Linked DNA regions of Homo sapiens: region 2 is reported to be linked to region 1. The links are microRNA targets in miRTarBase. Many come from high-throughput screens and were not tested one by one. Region 1 holds a microRNA gene; the other region holds the end of a gene's coding sequence.

Region 1 (8,324 bases):
TCTCACCAATTTCCTTTACTTTGAATTAAGGTGAGGGGTCAGTCCTCCTGGGTTCCAGGGAGAAGAGAATGGCAAATTCCTGTGTGATGTACAGCATAGTGTAGTGTCTCCTGAGGATGCTTACTTAGATTCATGAGCTTTAAGTTCAAAGTCAGAGCAAAGCTCAAGCCTTGGTCCGTGAGATCATTTTTGAAGCTGCTTGGTGACTGCTCTGTGGAAGGGCCATACATGCAACTGATTTAGAAAACCAGGATTAGCACCCCCACCCCCCACCCCCATCCAGATGGCCTTTATGAGAGACGGAAGGAAGGTTCCTTAGGACAATGCAGGTCAGGCTCCTGGAGCCTTCATGCATGCAAATCCAGATAGTGTTTTTAATTAAGCCAGTGCCCTGAGGTCTGCAGCTATGAAGAATCACCTTCTTTTGGACTGATTCTAGGAACAGAGTGGGTGGATCCAGAAGACCCAACTGTCATTGCAGAAACAGAGTTACTGGGGGCTGCAGCATCCATCGAAGCTGCTGCTAAGAAGTTAGAGCAACTGAAGCCAAGAGCAAAACCAAAAGTAAGTGTTCATTTATGGTTGGCTGTCCGATGTCAGTGGGTTCTTCCAGTGGGTGGCTGTGAAATGGAGCTAGGAGTGCTGCAGGGAGCTTGGCTCCTTCCTTATGGTCAGACTAGCAAGCAGAAAACCGGATCTACCTGCCCGGCACTGCTTTAGAGTATGGGGGTAAAAAAATGGCTGATGAGTCTTTCAAGTTAACCACCCAGAAAAATTCCTCTGAGTATCCAAAGGAAGAATTGGGGCATTTGCAGTCTTGATTTAGTTCATTATCTAAAGCAGGTGTTGGATGCTTTCTGTCAGAAGTTGCTGTTACTGGAGAGGAGATTGTTAGCCTCCAATTTTCTGGTTTCTCTTTTGCTTTTTACAAAGAAATAGCACTGCTGGGAATCAGAGGGCAATGAGAACTTCAAAAGTGCACCCACTCCAGGCTTTGTCAGTATATGCTGGAGAGGATGGGTAGCTGGTATGTTTTTTCCTTCTGTGTTTGTCATGTAGATAAATGTTTAAAACTTAAGATTATAGGTATATGTGAAGAGAAATAGCCATTTAAAGGAAAGAGATACTTTTAGATTAGGCAGGAGGAAGGACACTTTCTAAATAAAAGGATGACAAGCTAGTGCTGTCTCCAGGGGCAAAGCCCCAATCCTGTTAAGCTAATACCTCCTACCCCACCTTCCATAGCTGTCTTCAGCAGGAAAATGGTAGAACCAGAGGCGGCCTGTTTTTCTTCCTATTCAAGTAAGTCCCTGGTGGTGCATGTAACTCATCTATTTCCAAGGACCCAGATATACTAGGAAATAATATTTGGCTTTTCCCCTCAAAAAAGGGCTGGATTCCACCAATTTAGGTATACCTAAAAATTTACCTATTTTTGTAAGACCAAGGGATGGAGTCTGGGCCCTGAAACAGAGCAGACCACTCAAAAGCAGTGCCTGGGCCAGTGTAGTGTATGAAATAAACACAGACTGAGTCTGTTCAGCTTGGGAACATTATTAAAACCTTCGAGTGCTTAGAACCAACCTCCTAATAGTCGCTCTGGACTTGGTAAAGGCACTTAAACGTTTTCTCATCAAGATGTAACTTAAGGATTTGGGCTTCTGATTGTGGGGTTTACCAGGGCTCTCTCTGCTGGACTCTACCTGGGAGTCTTGGGTTGCCTGATATTGTCAGAGTAAGAGCCAAGTGTGGGTGTTGGGACAACTCCATTTTCTGGTTACGCCTTTGTTTCTGCTTTGTCAGTCAAGTTAATCGTGAATGAAAAGTGTACTTTAAACTTAAGAGTCAACCATTAACTAAGATTTAGAGGTTTGGTGCATGATGTTTTTCCATTTCCTTGTCTGATTTATCACGATGGCCTTTCTTGGGGAGGGCTCTGTCCGCTAATGCCGAAGCCATGTCAGTTGACACATTCGTTCTCCTGGAGAATTAGCCTGGTGCTAATTTAACATTAACACTTCACCATATTCTAAGAGCTCCTGTTTCAATGTCTTTCCCTTTGTCCTTCCGCAGGGTCCTTCTGAGCTCTTGTCTGAGTCCTGGTTTCCCCGTGTCTGGTCGTTCACTTCACGACTCCAGATGGGAAAACAAAATTATTAAAGTTCCTACCCCATAGGATTATTGTTATAATAATTAAATAAGATAGTATAAGAACACTGCCTGACATACAGTGAGACTTGGTAGATAGTAACTATATCACCATTATTATCACCATCATCACTGAAAATGTGTGTCTGGGACTTACTCCCTAGGAAATGCCTGAAATAAAAATTATTCCACTGGCCCCTGAAGAAAGAAAACCAGGAAGCTCGCGTTGTTCAGCTGCCAAGCCTGTGCCAGGCAGTCTTCTGGGTACTTTATGGGAGTCACTCATCTGATCCTTGGAAAAAGTCCATTAGAATCAGAAGCACCAAGAGGCGAATTACCTTGCCAGGGTCCGACCACTGTCACTCAGCTGGGAGGGCTATGTATGGCCCTGGGTGGCAGTTTCAGTCCATACCAGCCCCTGTTTCCCACCCCATTGTCAGAGAAGGCTTGTCTAGTCCCACAAAGGCCATTTGTAGTTTATGTGTGCCCTTAGAGCTACTCCTCGAAGGAATATTATGCAGCTATAATATTATGCAGCTATGAAAAATAATGGTTGCTAGGACTGTGTAGCACGAAGAAAATGCTCATGGTATAACAGAAAGGATGCAGAATTATGTACTTATTATGATTACAACTCTAAAAACTCACAGATGAAGAAAATAAGTAGGGAATGTACAAGAATGATGATGGAATTGGGATGATGGAAGGGTCTGTGTTTTAACATTTTATAAAACAAAGGTTTAAAAAATAACAGCACCTTAAAAATTAATGACTGCTGAAGTAGGCCTGTGAGGACTCCCTACAGTACTCTAGGATCATATAGCCTTTGTGTTTACATTGAGGGTTTTTACAGGAAAGCCAAGGAGTCCTTCGGCCAAGGTCAAGGTTAACATAACTGATGATGTGAATCCTTTGTTTGAGGGTTCCTACCTTAGCTCACTCCCATCGTATTAGGAAGGGTGATGGGTACTTCTAGAATGCTTCACAATGGTCTGAAGTCTTTCTCTGCCTGATGGCCAGAGGTGGATATTATCTATGAAACTGTTTTGGAAAACCTGCAACCCAAACCATAGTTTTTGTGCCTAATAGGGCACATTGCAATAACTTTTGCATGAAATATCTTCCTTGCCTTTATAAAGGAATTTATTTCCCCAATTAAAAAACAATAACAACAATCTGCACCAAAATCAGCCAGTCTTTTGAGTTGAATCACTTCTCTCCATTCTCTCCCAAAACCTTAAAAAAATCCTCAGGGTACTGTCAGTAAACAATTGCTTATTACATCCCTATAACCCTACCCTGGTACACACACATGCCTTCAGTATAAAATGGATGTGTGTTCCTTCTGGGGAGTATTCACACTGCTTTCAGGAAGAGTTTGGGGAGAGACAGTAATTTTGTCTAAAATGCTCTGCTCACCACCGTCTCAGGTTGCCTGTTTTTAAAGGAGAATGGCTCATGGTCTTTGATGATGATTCTGGTACATTTCCACCTCAGGCTCTTAAAACTTAAGCATCACTTTTTGCCTGGGATCTCCCAGACATGCACCGTTGAATCTGCTGTTCACCTGGGGAGATGAGAATGTCAGTGAGCGCTGGTGCATGTGCTGACAGTATTGTTAATGGCGCCGTTTCCACATCTGCAGGCAGACTTGTGCTCCAAAGACAGTTATCGGAGTTGCTGCAAAAGTGACCACCCCCTGCAGCCGTAACCTTCAATACTGTGCCTAGTCTCGAGCTCAGTCAAACCTGGATGCCTTTTCTGCAGGCCTCTGTGTGATATGTTTGATATATTAGGTTGTTATTTAATCCAACTATATATCAAACATATTCCTACAGTGTCTTGCCCTGTCTCCGGGGGTTCCTAATAAAGTTTATAAGGCAACAGGAAAGAACACGTTAAAATCACAAGTAGATTTAGAAGATGGAGCACTCATTACAATTCATGTTATCTTCCATTTCTTCTTATAGCATTTGAGACCTGTATCAGTATTACTGGATTACTTGCTTATTATAGAAACAATAAGTGTTGATGTTTCATAAGAGCCTGGGGTATTCTGTGTGGCTTAGTTTTGTGCAGTGATGAATCCTTAAGGAATTCAATATGCTTGGTGGAAAAAACGGTTCCAACCCATGTCTGTGACACAGAATAAAGGTCAGGATTATAGCCTCAAACACATCTAGATTCATGTTTCATTTTGGTTCATTTTTATCCTGATCTTCAATTTAGAAGTTCATGTCAGGGTTTCAGCAAAAATTCAAGGAGCACAGATCAGTTTTCTATGACTTCCCTTTCCACTCACAGTAACAGAATGTATAAAGCAAATCCTCCATACCAGCTGCATGGATACTGAGTCAGTGAGCTTTGTACAAACCTTGGATATAGGACTAAATATATCTCATGAAGGTAATATAATGTTGACTGAACTCTTGAATTTCCTGTTATAGGTTAACTTGTCAGTGGAGGTTGGTAATATTTAGAATAAGCCAACAATCGGAAAGTAATATCATAGCCTAATTGACTGTGGCAGGAAGTTTGGGATTATGATATAGAAAACATTTTTTCTGGTACATAACAGCCTTCTTTGGTTGGTTTTGACCTCTTCCTTATAGAAAAGCCTGTGAAGTATGTGTGAGTTCATTCTGAGTTCTCTCAACAAACAAAATACTTTGTGAGCACTGCTTTCTGGAAAGAGAACTACTGTTCTCAATGTTTTGGAGGAGAAAAGGTGTAAGCAAATGGTTTAAACAGGTAGTCATGAAAGCTTCCCCTTACTGTGTCTAGAAGTCATTGCCACATTGCTTACAGGTGAATGCATAGTGACAGGGTCACCAACAGCAACATCAGAGAGGTGATGACACAGGAGAGGGTCCTGTAATGTTGGAGTCCTGGCTTCTGGAGTTACATAATGGATCCTGTCTCTGGAATCCTTCTCCATTGAGAAGCGATCTGTGTGTGTTGGCAGGTGCTCTGTCAGGCGGGTTTCAAGATGCTGCCCCAATCAGTCCCTCCTTCACACAGCTAGAGAACACCGGCTTTGGTTTTGAGTCCAGTTACATTGTTTGACTGAAATGGCAAATGGCCATGGAAAAGAGACAGCAAGTTATTACGAACAAAGAAAAACATGGTTTCAAAAGGACCTGCAGACGAAGCCCAGTTGTTTGAATTGATGTGATTTTCTTGTTTCTTTGGGTGACTTTGTCACTGACCAGCATGTTCTCTGTAGTGATTAATATGGTGAAGGGAAAAAGGAACCAACTGTTCAGGAAGGAGGAGGACAAATACAGCATTTTCTGTATGGCTGCACTTGGGCTTTGAGTGGCACTCATTGGTTCCAGACCAGGAGCATACAGGGTGTGAAAAGCAAGTATGGGGCCGGGCATGGTGGCTCACACCTGTAATCCCAGCAGTTTGGGAGGCCAAGGTGGGCGGATCATTTGAGGTCAGGAGTTCGAGACCAGCCTGACCAACAGCTGGGTTTCACCCAGTCTCTACTAAAAATACAATATATATATAAATATAAATATATATAAAAATATATTTTTATATATATTAAATATAATTATAATTATATATTATATAATATATTATATATTATAATATATATTATATATTATATTATAATATATATTATAATATATAATATATATAAATATATTATATATATATATATTTATATATATATATAATAAGTCAGGCATGGTGGTGCACGCCTGTAGTCCCAGCTACTCAGGAGGCTGAGAATCGATTGAACTTGGGAGGCGGAGGTTGCCGTGAGCCGGGATCGTGCCACTGCACTCCAGCCTGGGTGACAGAGTGAGACTCGGTCTCAAAAACATAAATAAATAAGAAAAGCAAGTATGGGAGACTCCCCTCCAGGGTAGACCAGTAGGTCCTTGTCAGATCCTTCACAGACACAGAAAGGGGGCTTAAGATGTAGGGAGTTTATCTGATACAGCTTGGGAAGAACCCTGTTATCTTTTGTCTGTGCTTTCTATATCGACATTCAAGGGCCCCTTAAACAGAAATAGTGATTAAAAGATTATTTCAGTGGCGTTGCTTTCCATTTTGAACACAAAAGTAAAGCAATGGATACTATGGGAAAACTACTCCCAAGATACTAATCATGCAGGTGCGGACCTTTTCCAGCAGACACTGCATGAACTCGCGCGTATTCCTCGGATGCGGAGGGTGTGGTCCCTCCCCAGTCACAGGCACAGCCATTTGGCAGTTTCTCTGCCACCCATTTTGCCTGTTTAAGGTCTCTCTGGAGCTTTCCCTGAGACAAGGCCAGCTGTCCATGCCTGGCTCTTAGCAGTTCCAGTTGTTCTGGGAGGTGTACCTTTTGTTTGAACTAATAAAGGTGGCAGTCCTGAAGCCACCCCATCCATGGGTCCTCCAGAGGAGAAGCTGATCTAACCTTTGCACAGTTTGGGGCTTTGCATACAGGCTAAGGCCTCCCTCAAGGCACCTCTCAGTTCAATACCAGAAGCAAACTAGTAGCAGCCAAACTTGCAACAACAAAAAAAAAAGAGAAATGTGGCTGCCTGCTCCACTCCGGCTTCCAACTGGCAGGAAAATGCCTCACTCCTGTTGTGGGAGTTCTAGACACTGGCCTCCTTTTTTCCCTCAAGGACATTTAAATTAAATGCAAAATGTTCACACTTTAAAAAATATATATCCAAGAGGGTTTTTTTAAAGTTTCTGATGCACTATGACCTTATTTTTAGTAGCAGGCATTCTGCAAGACTCTGAGTAACACAGAGCAAAGCCTGAGACCCCACTGGAAAGATGACACGGGTGGTTCTTCAGTTTGTGGAGCCAGTTGTGAGAAGGGCGACCATTGTGTTTTTAGCTCTCAACAAAGCATTCCCTCAAAGTAAGTTTTCAGGGAGGGAGGCAAGCCCTTTGGCCATCTCCTATGCATGCCTTATGCTCCTTCACCTTCAAGTTCATTGGCGGAAGGAGCTGTGGGGTTGCAGGGCATAAGAAAAGGCCAAGAAAAAGACCATGGGAGGACATTCTCTTCCCCTGCCCAACACTTGCCCAGGACCTGACAAGGACAGTGAGCAGGGGAAGTGGGTAAGGACGTTGAGGAGGAGCGGGGGCAGTGGGGGATGTTGGTAAGGATATTGAGGAGGAGGTCAAGAGAAATCAGAAGAGAAAAGGTAGTTCCTGCTTATTTTAGTCACCGCCTTCTAAGAGAAGTTTAATTTGGAACTGTCCATGTCTAGGCAAAAGGACCAGGAAGGTTGAGTTGCTCCTCCAGTGACAGAAAACTGAGTAACTGATACCTGGAGAAAGGGCAGCGAAGACTCCACAGTCACATAGTCAAAGTACAGAACAGTGACTACCACCCGGATTGTCCCACTCCTGGTTGGGTGCTGAGAGAGGAGCTGGTGCCCATCTATGCTGTTTGGTACCTGACGCTTACTGATTTGTGGGTTTTACTTATAATGAATTTAGGCTGTAATCAGAAATAGCAAGAAGAATTTTTATTGGAATTATGGATACATAACAGGGTTTAGACAGAGAAACAGATTAATTTAGCCCCAAACCTGAAAAAAACAATTTTTGATAATGAAATTGCTAATAGTTTTTGAGCATCTCCTATGAGTCAGCCATGCTTTACATATACTAATCACGTGCTTGTAATGACTCCATCAGATAGGTTAGGAGGGGAAGTAGGCTTAGAAGATGAATGAATTAGTGTGAAGACCATGTTCTCAGAATCCATGAAAGGCCAAATGTCAAAAGAAACATGAGGAAAGGCTGTCCCTTTTACCTTCTCCACTTTCCACACCACTTCCCCTACCACCACCATTTCCTCTTCCAGGGGACATATAGCTACTGAAACTTTAAACCCATCAGAGCAACATAAAGGGGTCCCAAATACTCTCCCAACTGGGAAACAGGGGAAGGGAGCCAACCCAATATATAGCCTTTCCCAAGAGGGATCTCACCAGACCACTGACTTTTTAAAGGGTGAGCAAGGAAGGTCAGCATGCAGGGAAGAGGTCAACTACAGGGTACTCAGACCTTTCTAGAAGCTACCAAAAAGCCCAGGTAGGGATAAATCTGTCCTCAGCAAGAGTTGGCCAGACAGCCCAGGAAAGACGATTGCTTAGAGCTGATGGGCACCTGGCCAAATAGCCTTTTCAAATGAAGGGGAAGGG
Region 2 (7,662 bases), not on the chromosome of region 1:
CTCTCTCACAAGACATAGTCAGTCCATTTAGGAAATCTTGTCTATTCTACCTTCAACATTATCCAGAATCTGGTACCTTTTCACCACTTCTACTTCCACCATCCTAACTAAAGCCCTCAGCATGTCTTCTGGAGTATTGTAATTGCTTTCTAACTGGTCTCCCTGCTTCTATCCCTTGTTTCCCTATAGTTTCTTTTCCCCATAGCCAAGAGTGATTTTTTTTTTTTTGAGACGGAGTCTCGCTGTGTCTCCCAGGTTGGAGTGCAGTGGCGCGATCTCGGCTCACTGCAAGCTCCGCTTCCCGGGTTCACGCCATTCTCCTGCCTCAGCCTCCCAAGTAGCTGGGACTACAGGCGCCCGCCAACACGCCCGGCTAATTTTTTGTATTTTTAGTAGAAACGGGGTTTCACCGTGTTAGCCAAGATGGTCTTGATCTCCTGACCTCGTGATCCGCCCGTCTCGGCCTCCCAAAGTGCTAGGATTACAGGCGTGAGCCACCGCGCCCGGCCGAGTGATCTTTTTAAAAACATAGCATCATTCACTCCTCTACTCAAAATTGTCCAGTAGCTTCTCATCTCACTTAAAGCCAAAATCTTTACCATGGCCCTGTGTGACCTAGCTTTCCATTGTCTTTTTGATCACATCTCCTATCATCTCACTGCCTTGCCGCCACCCCTACATACACCACATTTGTCTACTGTGTTTCAACCATATTGGTTCCTCAGACATACCTCAGGTCCATTACACTTGCCGTCTGCTCATCCTGGAAGGCATTGCCTGCTGGTATCTATAGGGTGCACACCCTCACCTCCTTCAGTTCTCGGCTCATGTATCACCTTTCCAGAAGGCTTTCCCTGGCTGCCCTATTTAAAATTACAAATCACCTAAGCACTCCATATATCCTTCCTTGTTTCATTTTTTCACATAGCACTTAACCACCATCTGATATATATTTAATTAGTTTGTCTGTCTCACCTAACTCAAATGTTAGGTCTGTGTCACTAGAGATTTTTATCTGGTTTGTTCGCTGCTGTCTTCCCAGTATCAAAAATAAATTTGTTAAGTGACTAATTTTTCTTTTCATTTTAATACTTTATCAGGTGCAACCCAGTTTATGCCTGACCCCAAGCTCATGGATCACGGGCAGTCCCACCCAGAAGATATAGATATGTACAGCACTAGAAGCTGAAGTAGACTGCATGCAGAGACTACACAGAAAACTACAAGATGTGTGGCGTTGCAAATAATGATGAAAATAAATCATGTAATGGGTAACTGATACATAGAGTATTACCTAAACCAAGTTTCTCCCTTACATTTCCAAATATGCCATTTGATAAATTACATAAGTGGTTAACACACAAACTGTGAATGCAGTGTAAACAATATTAAATGATTGATGAGGAGACTTAGGTAGAAGTATTAGCTTGCATTTGATGACCTTTAAGGGCACTTAAAAAAAAATGAAGACATGAATTCTAGTGAGATTAAAATCTAAAAATACATATATATATATGTATGTATAAATACATACATATTTATACATGTATAAATACGTATTTATACATATATGTATAAATACATATACATATATGTATAAATACATATACATATTTATACATATATGTATAAATACATACATATTTATACATATATGTATAAATACATACATATTTATACATATATGTATAAATACATACATATTTATACATATATATGTATAAATACATACATATTTATACATATAAACATATATTTCTGCTCTAGCTTTCCCAGATTAATGCTAGTTAAATTAGAATGGTGTATGGAAAGGTGTGTTTCCCTCTGTTTTTTTTTTTTTTTTTTTTTTTTTTTTTCCCATTTCCTAGAGCTGGAATAAAATATCCATGTTTTATGGGACTTGAGCTTGGCTTTGTCCCTTGGTTTTGTTAATGTTAATTCCTCTTAAATATCTAAAAACATCTCTACCTATTTGAGAGGGCCATATGCTACACAGGCTTCCTAATACTGCTTAGCAATCCTTCTACTGGTTCCTAAGTGGTTTACTATTGTGTTCCCTGGAAGAGGTATTACAAACGTTTTATTCTTCTCAAGCCTCTTAGAACTGTCAAAGTTGACTGTGCCTCCTATTTCATAGAGAAAAAACTAAATTATTAGATATGACCATTCCCAAAACTTCTTCCCATCTACCTTCAAGACTTACCTCTTTTCAGCCATGCATCCCCCTTTTCTAAGACATGCTTCTCTTTGTGTTCTTGACCTCATTCCTTCCCATCTAAGACCATATTCCACCCTGTTTAATTTCTAGTCTTCGGTTTCTCTTTTTACAGTGAGCAAATTAGAAGAATAGGTTAGAAGAATAGGGTAGTAGATACTGTAGTTTCTTTCCTCCACCTCTACATAGCTGCAGGTCTTCTCTGTCTTAAATCAACAATAACAAAACAAGACAAAAACCTTTCCTTAACTTGGCCTCTTCCCTTGAACTATTTTTTCTCTCTCCTTCCTATAATTGTTATACTTCTTTAAAAAGTAATTGTTACTTTTTGACAAAAGTAAATATTGTCCCTTTTTTCCCTACTTTCAAGTCCTCTCTGTCTTGTGACATTCTGGCCTCCATACCTGCTTAATTTTTTTTGAGATGGGGTCTTGCTCTGTTGCCCAGGCTGGAGTGCAGTGGCACAAACACAGCTCACTGCAACCTCCACCTCCCAGGATCAAGCAATCCTCCCATCTCACCCTCCCAAGTAGCTGGGACTATAGGCACCCGCCACCATGCCTAATTTTTTGTATTTTTGGTAGTGACAGGGTTTCACCATGTTGTCCAGGCTGGTCTCGAACTCCTGAGCTCAAGCATCTGTCCGACTCAGCCTACCACAGTGTTGGGATTACAGGCGTGAGCCACCGCACCCAGCCCCTACTTGAATTTTTATGTCATTATTGACTCTTCACCACTCTCTCCTTGAGACTCACTTATCCCTTTGCTCTCTATTTTTCCTGCTTTTGTTATTCTTCATTTTTCTTCTCTTGCTCTGAATCCCTTAAATGCTGAGGCTGCTCAAGTTTCATCCCTAGTCCTATTTTCTCATTCTATATGCACACTCATTTTTCATTTAACAGACTTCACTGGCTTCAGGCACCATTTGTTTTATTATTCATATTTTCAACCCCCATATCTCTCTAGTGCTGTAGACCTTTATTTCTACTTACTAGTTATATTCACCTAACATCCCATAGATATGCCAATGTCAATGTGCCTAAAACAAAATTGTCTCTACCTCCCGCTCCTTCAAATCTATTCTGTCTTCTCTAATCCTATAATTACTCTCCCTCAAGTCATCATCATCACTTTTCTGGGTTACTGTAATAGCCTTCAGGCTAATTTGCTCACTGTCAATCTTGCTGTCTCTCATTTCAGAATATGTTCTGCTTGCAGGTGACAGTAAACTAGTTAAACAAATATTTAATATTAGCTTAAGCAAAAAAAAAAAAAAAGGCCTATCCTATTTATAGCCTAGAATTAGGCAGTATAGGGTTGGGACAGTGGCTCATTGGTGCTATCAAGGACGTAGACTTTTTCTCTTTCCACTCTGTCCTCTACAGCATGCTGGTTTGTCACCTCATGGTCACAAGATGTCTGCTGTACCTCCAGGGAGCAGATACACATTCAAAGTAGGAAATAGCAGATAAAAATGTACACAAGATGCGTCTGACTCCCTTTTACCAGAAAAGTAAATGCTTTCTTAGAATCTCCTCAGAAGACCTCTGTGTATATCTCAACCAGTACTTGTCATATAGCCACACACTTAGCTCAAGGAAGATAGGGAATAGGGAAATCATGTTTCTTTTCCCCTGTGGTGAGGAAGGCAAGGGGTAAGGGGTTGGGAACAGGTGCTGAATTAAAGCTAACATACAGTATCTACTACCCTATTCTTCTAACCCATTTGTCTATTATGATATAGTTGTCTTGACAACTATAATGAATAGCTGTCTTTCTGAAATCTTTAGTGGCTCATCATTGCCTGCAGAATCAAAACTCCTTAGTCTGATATACAAGGCCCTTCATATCTGATTCCAGCTTACCTTCTAATCCTATCTTCCCTCTCCTTACCCACCCTACTGCTAATGTGTATTATATTGTCTTTATGACATACCATTTGTTTCTTGAACATGCTTTGCTCATTATTGCCTCTTTCTCTGCCTGTGCTAGTGTGTCCTCTTAGAATGTTCTTCCATCTTATCCTGCTCTACATTCTAACTTCTACCCATCCTACAAGTCCAATTCCAGTGTCATGTTCCCTTTCTCAATCCTCCAGGGTAGAATTTAGATGTTCTGTCTTTTAGAGATAGGTATTGCTATGTTGCCCAGGCTGGTCTCAAACTCATGGCCTCAAGCGATCCTCCCACCTCAGCCAACCAGACATGAGTGACTGTGCTCAGCCTTTTTTAAAAAAATGAAGGTATTTGGTATGGCCGGGTATGGTGGCTCACACCTATAATCCCAGCACTTTGGGAGGCCAAGGTGGGTGAATCACCTGAGGTCAGGAGTTTGAGACCAGCCTGACCAACATAGTGAAACCCTGTCTCTACTAAAAACACGCAAAAAGTGCAAAATTAGCTAGGCGTGGTGGCTCATGCCTGTAATTCCAGCTACTTGGGAGGCTGAGGCAGGAGAATCACTTGAATCCGGGAGGTGGAGGCTGCAGTGAGCCGAGATCGTGCCATTGCACTTCAGCCTGGGCACAAGAACAAAACTCAGTCTCAAAAAATAAATAATAAAAAATAAAGGTATATAATATGTCTTAGATTTGATGAAATATGAGTGTGTTTGAGATCTGATCCAAGGTTTTAAAAAATTCATTTCAAATCCTGGAGATAAATTCTGAGGAGCTTACTTATGAAAAACTAGCAAGTGATAGCTGGTATTTACAGATATGGTACTTTACACAATTTATGTAATTAATATTTTCTCACAGACAAGGTTCCTTGTGGATATCACTGAATAATTTTTGTGTAGTTTCTATGCCCATGAAGTGCCTGGTAGGTAGTAGGAACTCACACGTTCTGCTATGCTGGTTGCAGCACAGGACACAAAAGTTAGAATTATTTCAAAGGACTTATACTCTACTAGGAAAGAGAGAAACATAGAAATATAGTGTTGTATGTGGTATCTTCCCTAAGATAAGTACAACCAAAGAGCTATGGATGTTCAGAGATAGAATGTAGTACTGGGATGATGTCAAGGAGGCAGTGGTACTTAAGCTGCTCAAGGTAGGGAAGCAGTTTACTTGCTAGTTTTTCATAAGTAAGCTCTTCAGAATTTATCTCCAGTATTTGAAATGAATTTTTTTAAACCTCAGATCTGAATATATTCAAACACCCATATTTCATCAAATCTAAGGCATATCATATACCTTTAATTTAAAAAAAAATGCTGAGCAGAGTTGCTTATGTCTGGGAGGCTGAAGTGGGAGGATTGCTTGAGGCCAAAAGTTTGAGACCAGCCTGAGCAACATAGCAAGATCCTGCCTCTAAAAACAAACAAACAAAAAATGCTGCCAGTTGATCATTACATTTATCCCGACATCAGATATGTCAAATTGTGAAAAGCACCTTAATTTTGATGAAATATGATAGGTAAAAAATAGCGCAAAGCTAAGTATAAGTGACTTTTAAATTATCTGCTCTTTTGGATTATCACTACTGCTACTAGCCGTTAGAATATTGGTTTGGATAATGGAAAGTTGACTAGAGCTACAAAATCTGTTTCAAAATAAAAGATCTGCTCAAACAAGAATGTGATGATCACTTGCTGTATTGTACAACAAAGTCAAACTGCTGTTAGACTCAGGTGACAGTCAAATGTTGGAGGCTGTGTTGGGATGAGTTGTTACAAAGCCTCTTTCATTCTTCCCATGCCATGTCCAGGAGTTCTTCTCTGTTAAACCTGAAGAGATGCCAGCCCTCCTCAGAGGAAAGGTCTAAAGCCCCTCGACTAGTATAGTAGTTGATAGAAGCCTGGTTCCAAATGACGACAAGAAAGTGCATGCAGTTACATTGAGTTGTGATGGCTATCTGTTTAAAAACAAACAAGCAAATATTACTTTCATTTGAAAGTATAATCTTCGTTAACACATATATTTTATTGAAGGTCTACTCTATGCAAGACACTATGTGTGAATAATACTTCCAAATATAGTAGTTACCTTTTGAACTTTTCTATAGCTGTAAAAAGAAAAAAGTCTCACTGTTCTGAGCTTTAAAGCCCTCTTTAAAATCTCAAAACTGATTTGCAAAGCCTTTATCATACAGAAAAGGTGTACCTAAAAGAACACATGTTCTCATATGTTTCCAAAATACAAGAAGATCTTGCTTTTATAGTCTTGTAATATTCATACTGTGAGCCTGTGTTTTTGAATAAAAATGCTTTCTAATCTCCCTCCTTCTTACTTTCCCTTGATAGCAAAAAGGGTGTATAGTGTGGTTGTGGATTATATATAAATCAATTTTAATTGACTATAATTCATATACTGTATATGATCATCTGATTTGAAAATCCAGTTTAATTTGGGTAGAAATTTGAAGTATATGTTGGGGTTATGTTCAAATGGTGAGATTAATGATTTAATTTATGCCCTGTGAATATTTATTAAGAAAAGGTTAATGTATAGAATATCAATACTAATTGTAATACATACCTGACTTAGCCTCTTCAGCATTTCAGCTCCAATACCTAGGCCTTTTAAATAGACAATGCAAAGTGAAAACTGCAAATTTCACTTAACTTGTTATTTGCTTTAGTTTAAAATAAATAATATCTAAAACTCTGTATCTGTTTTTTGTATATTATTAATAGCTTCTGGAAACACAACTCGTGAATGCTTTCATATCCCTTTTTCCTAATTGGAATGACGTACCAAAGGTCATAGAAGAGTTTGGGTTTATTTTAAAGATCAGTGAAGAAGTGAGTCTCTGCCACTATTGTCTTATAACGGTATATTTCTTAGCTGTTTTTACTGAAAACCACCTAAAATGTGAAAGCATTTTTTAAAGATAAAAGTATAGCTGTGTGGCCTATACTCACACGATGGCTCACACATGTGATGGCACGATGGCTCACACCTGTAATCCCAGCACTTTGGGAGGCCAAGGCAGGAGGATCACTTGAGCCCAGGAGTTTGAGACCAGCCTGGGCAACACAGACCCTGTTTCTCCAAAAAATAAAGAATTAGCTGGGTGCTGTGGCACATGCCTGTAGCCCCAGCTACTTGGGAGGCTGAGGTGGGAGGATTGCTTGAGTGTAGGAGGTTGAGGTTACAATGAGTCGTGATCACACCACTGCATTCTAGCCTGGGTGACAGAAAACCCTGTCTCAAAAACAAAATAAAAAAATATATAGCCATGTGATAGCTTGGCTTATTCAAACCTTGAGAGGAACTAATAAAATGTTTTTCTAATCTGTGACTGAGTCTTCACAATCACAGATTAGATCAAACTCATTAGGATAGTGATCAAACTCATTAAGTAGCAATAAGTTACATTAACTAAAACACCGTATGTATAGTAAAGCCCTATCTCCTTAAAATATGTCACTTTAATTTTTAAAGTATTTAAAAGTAATATCATAAATTTTAGTTTTACCTTGGTAAGCTTGTGTGACATAAA

Evidence for each region. Region 1 holds the annotated microRNA hsa-miR-190a-3p (CUAUAUAUCAAACAUAUUCCU, at 3,962-3,982, shown strand). A microRNA usually pairs through its seed, bases 2 to 8, with sites in the 3' UTR of a target mRNA and lowers its output. Matches are read on the target gene's strand: a 7mer-m8 pairs with bases 2 to 8, a 7mer-A1 pairs with bases 2 to 7 and ends in A, and an 8mer does both.
Region 2: miRTarBase lists APOOL as a target of hsa-miR-190a-3p. Seed matches in the 3' UTR shown: 7mer-m8 at 1,505-1,511, 7mer-m8 at 1,507-1,513, 7mer-m8 at 1,509-1,515, 7mer-m8 at 1,711-1,717, 7mer-A1 at 4,787-4,793 and 8mer at 6,491-6,498.

What each region holds. Positions count from the first base shown.
Region 1 is chr15:62,820,047-62,828,370 of GRCh38, forward strand. It overlaps MIR190A (microRNA 190a), which reads left to right and starts at 3,911; the gene lies at 3,911-3,995. It overlaps TLN2 (talin 2), which reads left to right. Exons shown (of 59, transcript NM_015059.3): 54 at 440-564.
Region 2 is chrX:85,086,490-85,094,151 of GRCh38, forward strand. APOOL (apolipoprotein O like) reads left to right here. Exons shown (of 9, transcript NM_198450.6): 9 at 1,101-6,826. The coding sequence ends at 1,189. SATL1 (spermidine/spermine N1-acetyl transferase like 1) reads right to left here. Exons shown (of 8, transcript NM_001367857.2): 6 at 7,639-7,662; 7 at 6,696-6,736; 8 at 5,795-6,072. The coding sequence ends at 5,902. Among named protein-coding and RNA genes, the nearest start is that of APOOL, 86 kb to the left of the region's middle.